2 linked regions of the Homo sapiens genome follow. The protein of the gene in region 2 purifies or fractionates together with the protein of the main gene of each other region. This does not show direct contact. Each region holds a gene or a part of one and is shown on either strand. Other genes may lie near its edges.

Evidence for each region. Proteins that work in one complex are often made in the same cells at the same time.
Region 1: the proteins of GCH1 (region 2) and GID4 purify together in Homo sapiens (affinity purification with mass spectrometry, with the first as the bait; one large-scale study listed by BioGRID). This does not show direct contact.

Annotation. Positions count from the first base shown.
Region 1 is NC_000017.11:18,055,494-18,059,921, reverse strand, and holds part of GID4 (glucose-induced degradation protein 4 homolog), read right to left. Parts: intron 3,220-4,428; coding exon of another isoform or gene 2,896-3,219; exon of another isoform or gene 2,451-2,895; intron 1,055-2,450; coding exon 953-1,054; intron 647-952; coding exon of another isoform or gene 623-646; exon of another isoform or gene 174-622; intron 1-173.
Region 2 is NC_000014.9:54,867,572-54,872,891, forward strand, and holds part of GCH1 (GTP cyclohydrolase 1), read right to left. Parts: intron 1-5,320. UniProt on the Homo sapiens protein: Positively regulates nitric oxide synthesis in umbilical vein endothelial cells (HUVECs). May be involved in dopamine synthesis. May modify pain sensitivity and persistence.

The DNA.
Region 1 (4,428 bases), on a different chromosome or scaffold from region 2:
AGTAGAGATGGGTTTTCACCATGTTGGCCAGGATGGTCTCAATCTCTTGACCTCATGATCTGCCTGCTTCAGCCTCCCAAAGTGCTGGGATTACAGGTGTGATCCACCACGCCCGGCCGATCCCCACTTCCTAAAGTGGTTAGCTATGCAAAATAAAGACCAGGAAAGGCAACTCAATATGATTCATCTTTATGAAAGCTGACAAGATTTCAAGATAAAACGACTTTTTCCCTGCAGACTGGGGACTAGGGGTTGGTATGTTCTCAAAGTTATTTAACAAACTGGCTTCCTGATTTTGCTATTCTGGGGCTGTAAATATCACGTTATCAAAGCAGGGAGCACAAATGACCTCGCAGCTAAAAGCCAATCCATCAAGTCAGTCAGGTGGGGCTCTCTGAGGTCTGCTGAGTCAAAAACCCGTGTTCCATTCCCGGTCCCTCATTTCCTGAGCTGGAGGGAAGTAGAGGAGGTGAGACTTTCCTGAGCTCTGGGAAAAGGATGTGGTGGAGGGCACCTGGCCCACGGATGGTGTTTAAGCCTGTAGAGGGATCTGGGTACAACTGATGACTAAGTTCAAAGCAAGTTTGGCTCTGCCTTGAATCCACAGAACACTTGGAGTGATTCAACTTGGGGGTTCAACAAGATTCTTGGGTGGGAGAAAGGAAAGGGAGAAGACAATGTTAGAGGCAGCCACCTAGGCCCAAATCCACTTGCTACCCACCAAAAGCACAGCGAGGAGGAGCTGTCTGGGACATCGGCAGTTAACCAGTGCGTGCCCTGGAGCTGGGCCCACTTTTTATAGGCGTGCAAAGACCCTGCCATGAAGACTTTGCCATGACAACCAGCTGTGACGAGCACTGGACATGGGGAGCCCTTGGTTAGAGTGAATATGTAGGTGCGATACAGGGCCTGGCTTGCTGGGAGTCTGGAGGGCCACCTGGTGGGAACTTACCTTCCACCTCATGAAGACGTAGTCTCCATTCTTCAGCTCTTCATAATCAAAGTCATCTGAGTTAAATGATTTTGCATACTGATAAAAAGCCAGAAACTTGCCCTGAAAGCAGAAAAGAGAGTGTGCCGATTGACTGAGAGAAGGAGAGGCTGCTCTCAGAACTATGCTTATGTGCCCAGGTAAACTCACCTTCCCAAGGCATGACAGCTAGGGACGTGGCTCCCAAAAGGGCAGCTAAGACCAAGTAACAGATGGGGCCCTATGGTCACCCCATTGAATGCAGACTCAACCCTGGGGCAGATACCTGGACTCCAGCTGGGGCCCCACTGCCCTACACCTGCCTTGTTAACATGGCTGAGGAAAAGGCCAAAGGATGGGAATGGTGAACAGACAGACAAAATAAACAGACGAAAGCTAAGAAAAATTAATGAGAAGACCTCTGCAAGTAAATCCGAAGTAGCAAAAAGAGCCATGCAAAACAGCTTAGAAACAGCCTGCCCAGTCTCAGAGAAGAGGGCTTTGTGAAGCTTGTGTCTCTGCATGATCTAGGGGCTTGGGCCAGCTAGCTAAGCAGACACTAGAAACACATGATAGCCTTGTCCTTCGATATCTGCGAGAGATTGGTTCCAGGACCCCCATGAATACCAAAATCTGCAGATGCTTAAGTCCCAGATATAAAACAGTGCAGTATTTGCAGATAACCTACACACATCCTCCCCTATACTTTATAGCATCTCTAGATTGCTTATAATACCTAATTCAATGTAAATACTAAGTGAATAGTGGTTATACTGTATCGTTCAGGGAAAAATATCAAGAACAAAAAATCTATACATCCACTGGGTGTGGGGGCTCACGCCTGTAATCCCAGCACTTGGGGAGGCCAAGGCAGGCAGATCACAAGGTCAGGAGATCAAGACCATCCTGGCTAACACGATGAAACCCTGTCTCTACTAAAAATATGAAAAAATTAGTTGGGTGTGGTGGTGGTCGCCTGTAGTCCCAGCTACTTGGGAGGCTGAGGAGGAGAATGGCGTGAACCCGGGAGGCGGAGCTTGCAATGAGCCGAGATCGTGCCACTGCACTCCAGCATGGGCAACAGAGCGAGACTCTGTCTCAAAAAAAAAAAATCTATACATCATCAGTACAGATGCAATTTTTTTTTTCAAATATTTTCAAACTGTGGCTGGTTGAATCCACAGATACAGAACCCACATATATGGAGGGCTGACTACATTTACAACAGGAGATTAGGAATAGGTTACAAAACTGTATTTTATGATCCCATTTTTTAAAAAAAAGACAAAAAACAAGTATACACTGTATACCCAAAAGAGATTCAGGAAGAGGTTAACAGCTATTTTAGTTTTAGGTGTTGCCATAGATGACTCCTTTTCCTCCAGCTTTTCTATTTTTTCAAATATTTTTAAACAAGCATGTGTTAATTTGATAAGAAAACATCTTAAATAAAAAATCAAGACACAGAGATATTAAGTCATAGATTTTGTCACATAGATTTATTTTATTATTATTTTTTGAGACAAAGTCTTGCTCTTGTTGCTCAGGCTGGAGTGCAATGGCATGATCTCAGCTCACTGCAATCTCCGCCTCCCAGGTTCAAGTGACTCTCCTGCCTCAGCCTCCCGAATAGCTGGGATTACAGGTGTGTGCCACCATGCCTGGTTAATTTTTATATTTTTGGTAGAGATGGGGTTTCACCATGTTGGCCAGGCTGTTCTCGAACTCCTGACCTCAGGTGATCCATCTGCCTCGGCCTCCCAAAGTGCTGGCATTACAGGCATGAGCCACCACACCTGGTGTCACATAGACATTTTTATCCTATGTAGACTGAATATATGGAATCCTGACTTTATAGTACCACTATAATAGCAACTTAAATACCACTCAGGAAAATCTGAGGATGCAATACAATATCTCTGATTCTAGTTTATAATGAAAAAATGACAGCCTAGGTGAAGTGTATTAGACATTGTAAATCTCAGACAAACCCAGGTGCAGTACAGAGCTCCAGGAGTCCCACGTGGGAACCTGGGAGTCCTCCATGAGTGGTGAAAGTTAGGGGAAATGCTGAGTACTACAAAAGCAGCCACAAACTGTTGGAGGAGGAAGCACTCCATAGGTTCAGCTCCCTGGCTCAACCACACCTCACATGCCAGTACCAAGGGTGGCCTTCTTAGTTCCTCTCTCACCCAAAATGTTTCAGTCCAGTCTAGCAGAGTCTGCAGATCCAGATATCTTCCAATGTTCTAACGGAAGTCAATGGGAAAATTAAGAGTTGCTTTCCAAGTATTTAATTTGTAGTCAACCTAGCCTAAAACTGAGTGTCACTGGGCCTCAAAGACTTTGCTTTTTGCAGGACCAATATGAAATGGAAAATAGAGTTGAATGGGAGAGAGGCTGTGGTTTACTACAAGGAAGAACCTTCTACTCTGGGACTGTACAGGAGAGGAAGGAGCCATCTCGTGAGGCAGCAAGCCATGCAGGAAGAGCCTAGCCCTGGGCAGGGGTGGGCGCAGATGGTACTAGGGAGCCCTTCCAACTCCACCTGCTGGTGGCCAGCACCTTCATACACCACTTGGGCTCCCCCAACCTTCTGGATACTCAGGTCTTGTGCATTCTCTTGTATCACAGAGAGACACAAATGACTGTCTAGTTTTTAGTGTCCATTTGCTACAACAATCAAAATGTATAGAATTCAAAAAACGCTTTAAAAAGCTCAAGTTTAAATTTAAATTTAACTGAACCTCAGTATTTGATAGATCTCCTTTTTTTACTCAAGTAAAAAACAGCTTGGGGCTGGGCATGGTGGCTCACGCCTGTAATCCCAGCACTTTGGGAGGCCAAGGCAGGAGGATTACTTGAGGCCTGGAGTTCAAGACCAGCCTGGCCAACATGGCGAAACCTTGTCTCTACTAAAAATACAAAAATTAGCCAGGCACGGTGGTGCACGTCTGTAATCCCAGCTACTTGAGAGGCTGAGAGATGAGAATCACTTGAATCTGGGAGGCGGAGGTTGCAGTGAGCAGAGGTTGCAGTGAGCCGAGATTACGCCACTGCACTCCAGCCTGGGTGACAGACTGAGACTCTGTCTCAAAACCAAACCAAACAAAACAGAACAAAACAAAACAAAAACCCCCATAAAAGAAAAACCAAAAAAACAGGTTGGGTCAGTGGCTCACACCTATAATCCCAGCACTTTGGGAGGACAAGGCAAGAGGATCACTTAAGATCATGAGTTCAAGACCAGCCTGGGTAACATAGGGAGACTCTGTCTCTACAAAAATAAAAGAAAATGAGCTCAGTGTGGTGGCACGTGCCTGTAGTTCTAGCTACTTGGGGCGCGGAGGTGGGAGGATTACTTGAGCCCAGGAGGTTGAGGCTATAGTGAGCTATAATCATGCCACTGCACTCCAGCATAGACGACAGAGCAAGACCCCAACTCTAAAAAAAATTTT
Region 2 (5,320 bases):
AGAACAAGACTCCGTCTCAAAAAAAAAAAAAAAAAAAAAAAAAGATCTGGCTCCATCACTTACTAGTTATTAGGCCTTGGGCAAGGTACTCTGTACCTCAGTCTTCTCGGCTATAAAATGAGCATAAAGTGCCTGCTTCACAGGGTGTCATGAGGATTAAATGGGCACATGTGTTTAGAACTATGCAGGCGGAGCAAGTGCTAGTTATTGTTATTACTATTATTATTACAATTAAGATTGAGGGAGCTGCAAAGCTATGTATCTCCCATGCATATTGAGGTACATCAAAATTTAAAAAGCAATAATTTGCCTTAACAGAGTACAGAAAAGGAAAAATAGTAACTTGGTGGAGAAACCTGGCAGAGGCTACCTTAACCAAATGATTAAGGTTAACTTTGCCAGTAACAGGACATACTGACATCAGGTAGCTCCTGATAGGACACCATGAGAAGGGCACATCACCTCTGCGGTATTCTTCCCAAAAATCCATAACTGCAGCCTAATCATCAGACAAATCTAGGGACACAAAATATCTAAACAAGTACTCTTAGAAAGCATCAGGCCAGGCACAGTGGCTCACACCTGTAATCCCAGCACTTTGGTAGGGCAAGGTGGGAGGATCACTTGAGCCCAGCATTCTGAGACCAGCCTAGGTAACACTGCAATATCCCATCTCCACAAAAAATAAGAAAAAAATTAGCCAGGCACGGCAGCACACTCCTATAGTCATAGCTATTCAGGAGGCTAAGGCAGGAGGATCACTTAAGCCCAGCAGTTCAATGCTACAATGAGCTATGATTGCACCACTCCACTCCAAATAGAGTGACAGGGCAAGATCCTGTCTCTATTTTTTAAGTGTTTAAAAATTAAAAAAAAAAATTAAGGCATCAAAGTCATGAAAGACACAGAAAGACTAAGGAATTGTCAGATTGTAGGAGACTAGAGAAATGACAATGAAAATCTGAATAAAGTCTGTAGTTTAAATAATAGTATTGTACCAATATTACTTTTTAAAATAAAGTATATTTTTATTATTTTTTCTTTTTTTGAGACAGAGTCTTGCTCTGTCGCCCAGGCTGGAGTGCAGTGGCATGATCTCGGCTCACTGCAAGCTCTGCCTCCCAGGTTCACACCATTCTCCTGCCTCAGCCTCCTAAGTAGCTGGGACTACAGGCGTCTGCCACCACCCCAGCTAATTTTTTGTATTTTTAGTAGAGATGGGGTTTCACCATGCCAGCCAGGATGGTCTCGATCTCCTGACCTCGTGATCCACCCGCCTCAGCCTCCCAAAGTGCTGGGATTATGGGCGTGAGCCACCGTACCTGGCCTTATTATTATTATTATTATTTTAGAGATGGGATCTTGATATATTGCTCAAGCTAGTCTTAAACTCCACGGCTCAAGCCATCCTCCCACCTTGGTCTCCCAAGTAGCTGGGACTACAGGCATGCACCACCACCTGGCTCCAATATTAATTTCTTTTTTGAGATGAAGTCTCACTCTGTCACCCAGGCTGGAGTGCAATGGCGTGGTCTCGGCTCACTGCAACCTTCGCCTCCCGGGTTCAAGCGATTCTCCTGCCTCAGCCTCCCGAGTAGCTGGGACTACAGGCACGTGCCACCAAACTCAGCTAATTTTTTTGTATTTTTAGTAGAGACGGGGTTTCACTATGTTGGCCAGGCTGGTCTCGAACTCCTGACCTCGTGATCTGCCAGCCTTGGCCCCCCAAAGTGCTGAGATTACAGGCGTGAGCCACCATGCCCAGCCAGTATTAATTTCTTAAATGTTGATAATTGTACCATGGCCATGTGAGATGTTAAACATCAGGAGAAACTGGGGAAAGGGTATATGAAAACTCTCTCTACTATCTTTATAATTATTCTGTAAGTCAGTCTAAAATTGTTTCAAAATAAAAACTTTCTTTTTGAAACGAAGTTTTGCCCTTGTTGCCCAGGCTGGAGTGCAATGGCACAATCTCAGCTCACTGCAACCTCTGCCTCCCAGGTTCAAGTAATTCTCCTGCCTCAGCCTCCTGAGTAGCTGGGATTATAGACACATACCACCACGCCCAGCTAATTTTGTATTTTTAGTAGGGATCGGGTTTCTCCATGTTGGTCAGACTGGTCTGGAACTCCCGACCTCAGGTGACCCACCTGCCTCAGCCTCCCAAAGTGCTGGGATTACAGGCGTGAGCCACCGTGCCTGGCCCAATAAAAAGTTTTCTAAAAAGCAAAAGGACAATGTCCCTCAACTGGAACATATAAACAATGGAGTACACTCAGCAAGAAGATGGAATGAATTACTGATACATGTAATAACATGGTTTGAGTCTCCAAAGTACACTACAATGTGAAAGAAGACATCCATACACAGAAGAGACTACCTATGTTCTAGAAAAGGCAAAACTATAGTGATAGAAGGCAGACAGGTGGTTTACCAGGGCCAGAGAGGTAGGAGAGAGAACTTCACTGCAAAAGGAAAGAAAGAAACTTTTTTGGGTGATGGAAATAGTTCCTATCTTCACTGTATGGGTGGCTATATAACTGCATACGTTTGTTAAAATTCACATTGTACATGTAAAGTAGGTAAATTTTACATAAGATAAGTGACACCTTAATAAAGCTAACTTCAAACATAATTTTTAGGCTGGGTGCGGTGGCTCACATCTGTAATTCTAGCACTTTGGGAGGCGAAGGTGAGAACATTGCTAGAGGCCAAGAGTTCAAGACCAGACTGCCCAACCTAGCCAGACTCTGTTTTTACCAAAAAAAAAAAAAAAAAAAAAAAAAGGGTGGGGGTGGAGCCAAGATGGCCGAATAGGGACAGCTCCAGTCTACAGCTCCCAGTGTGAGCAACGCATAAGACGGGTGATTTCTGCATTTCTAACTGAGGTATCGGGTTCATCTCACTGGGGAGTGTCGGACAGTGGGTGCAGGACAGGGGGTGCAGCGCACCCAGTGAGCCAAAGCAGGGCGAGGCGTCACCTCACCCGGGAAGCACAAGGGGTCAGGGAATTCCCTTTCCTAGTCAAAGAAAGCGGTGACAGATGGCACCTGGAAAATCAGGTCACTCCCACCCTAATACTGCACTTTTCCAACGATCTTAGCAAACGGCACACCAGGAGATAATATCCTGCGCTTGGCTCGGAGGGTCCTACTCCCACAGATCCTCGCTCATTGCTAGCACAGCAGTCTGAGATCAAACTGCAAGGCGGCAGCGAGGCTGGGGGAGGGGCACCCGCCATTGCCGAGGCTTGAGTAGGTAAACAAAGCGGCTGGGAAGCTTGAACTGGGTGGAGCCCACCGCAGCTCAAGGAGCCCTGCCTGCCTCCGTAGACTCCACCTCTGGGGGCACGGCATAGCCGAACAAAAGGCAGCAGAAACTTCTGCAGACTTAAAAGTCCCTGTCTGACAGCTTGGAAGACAGCAGTGGTTCTCCCAGCATGCAGCCTGAGATCTGAGAATGGACAGACTGCCTCCTAAAGTGGGTCCCTGACCCCCGAGTAGCCTAACTGGGAGGCACCCCCAAGGAGGGGCAGACTGACACCTCACACAGCCGGGTACTCCTCTGAGACAAAACTTCCAGAGGAACGATCAGGCAGCAACATTTGCTGTTCACCAATATCCACTGTTCTGCAGCCTCCGCTGCTAATACCCAGGCAAACAGGGTCTGGAGTGGACCTCCAGCAAACTCCAACAGACCGGCAGCTGAGGGTCCTGACTGTTAGAAGGAAAACTAACAAACAAAAAAGACATCCACACCAAAATCCCATCTGTACATCACCATCATCAAAGACCAAAGGTAGATAAAACCACAAAGACAGGGAAAAAACAGAGCAGAAAAACTGGAAACTCTAAACATCAGAGTGCATCTCCTCCTCCAAAGGAACGCAGCTCCTCACCAGCAACGGAACAAAGCCAGACGGAGAATGACTTTGACGAATTGAGAGAAAAAGGCTTCAGACGAACAAACTACTCCAAGCTAAAGGAGGAATTTCGAACCCATGGCAAAGAAGTTAAAAACCTTTAAAAAAATTAGACGAATGGCTAACTAGAATAACCAATGCAGAGAAGTCCTTAAAGGACCTGATGGAGCTGAAAACCATGGCACGAGAACTACGTGATGAATGCACAAGCCTCAGTAGCTGATTCGATCAACTGGAAGAAAGGGTATCAGTGATGGAAGATCAAATGAATGAAATGAAGCAAGAAGAGAAGTTTAGAGAAAAAAGAATAAAAAGAAATGAACAAAGCCTCCAAGAAATATGGGACTATGTGAAAGGACCAAATCTATATCTGATTGGTGTACCTGAAAGTGACAGGGAGAATGGAACCAAGTTGGAAAACACTCTGCAGGATATCATCCAGGAGAACTTCCCCAATCTAGCAAGGCAGGCCAACATTCAGATTCAGGAAATACAGAGAATGCCACAAAGATACTCCTCGAGAAGAGCAACTCCAAGACACATAATTGTCAGATTCACCAAAGTTGAAATGAAGGAAAAAATGTTAAGGGCAGCCAGAGAGAAAGGTCAGGTTACCCACAAAGGGAAGCCCATCGGACTAACAGCTGATCTCTCGGCAGAAACTCTACAAGCCAGAAGAGAGTGGGGGCCAATATTCAACATTCTTAAAGAAAAGAATTTTCAACCCAGAATTTCATATCCAGCCAAACTAAGCTTCATAAGTGAAGGAGAAATAAAATCCTTTACAGACAAGCAAATGCTGAGAGATTTTGTCACCACCACGCCTGCCCTACAAGAGCTCCTGAAAGAAGCACTAAACATGGAAAGGAACAACCGGTACCAGCCACTGAAAAAACATGCCAAATTGTAAAGACCATTGAGGCTAGGAAAAAACTGCATCAACTAACGAGCAAAATAACCAGCTAACATCATAATGACAGGATCAAATTCACACATAACAATATTAACCTTAAATGTAAATGGGCTAAATGCTCCAATTAAAAGACACAGAATGGCAAATTGGATAAAAAGTCAAGACCCATCAGTGTGCTGTATTCAGGAAACCCATCTCACGTGCAGAGACACACATAGGCTCAAAATAAAGGGATGGAGGAAGATCTACCAAGCAAATGGAAAACAACAAAAGGCAGGGGTTGCAATCCTAGTCTCTGATAAAACAGACTTTAAACCAACAAAGATCAAAAGAGACAAAGAAGGCCATTACATAATGGTAAAGGGATCAATTCAATTCAACAAGAAGAGCTAACTATCCTAAATATATATGCACCCAATACAGGAGCACCCAGATTCATAAAGCAAGTCCTTAGAGACCTACAAAGAGACTTAGACTCCCAC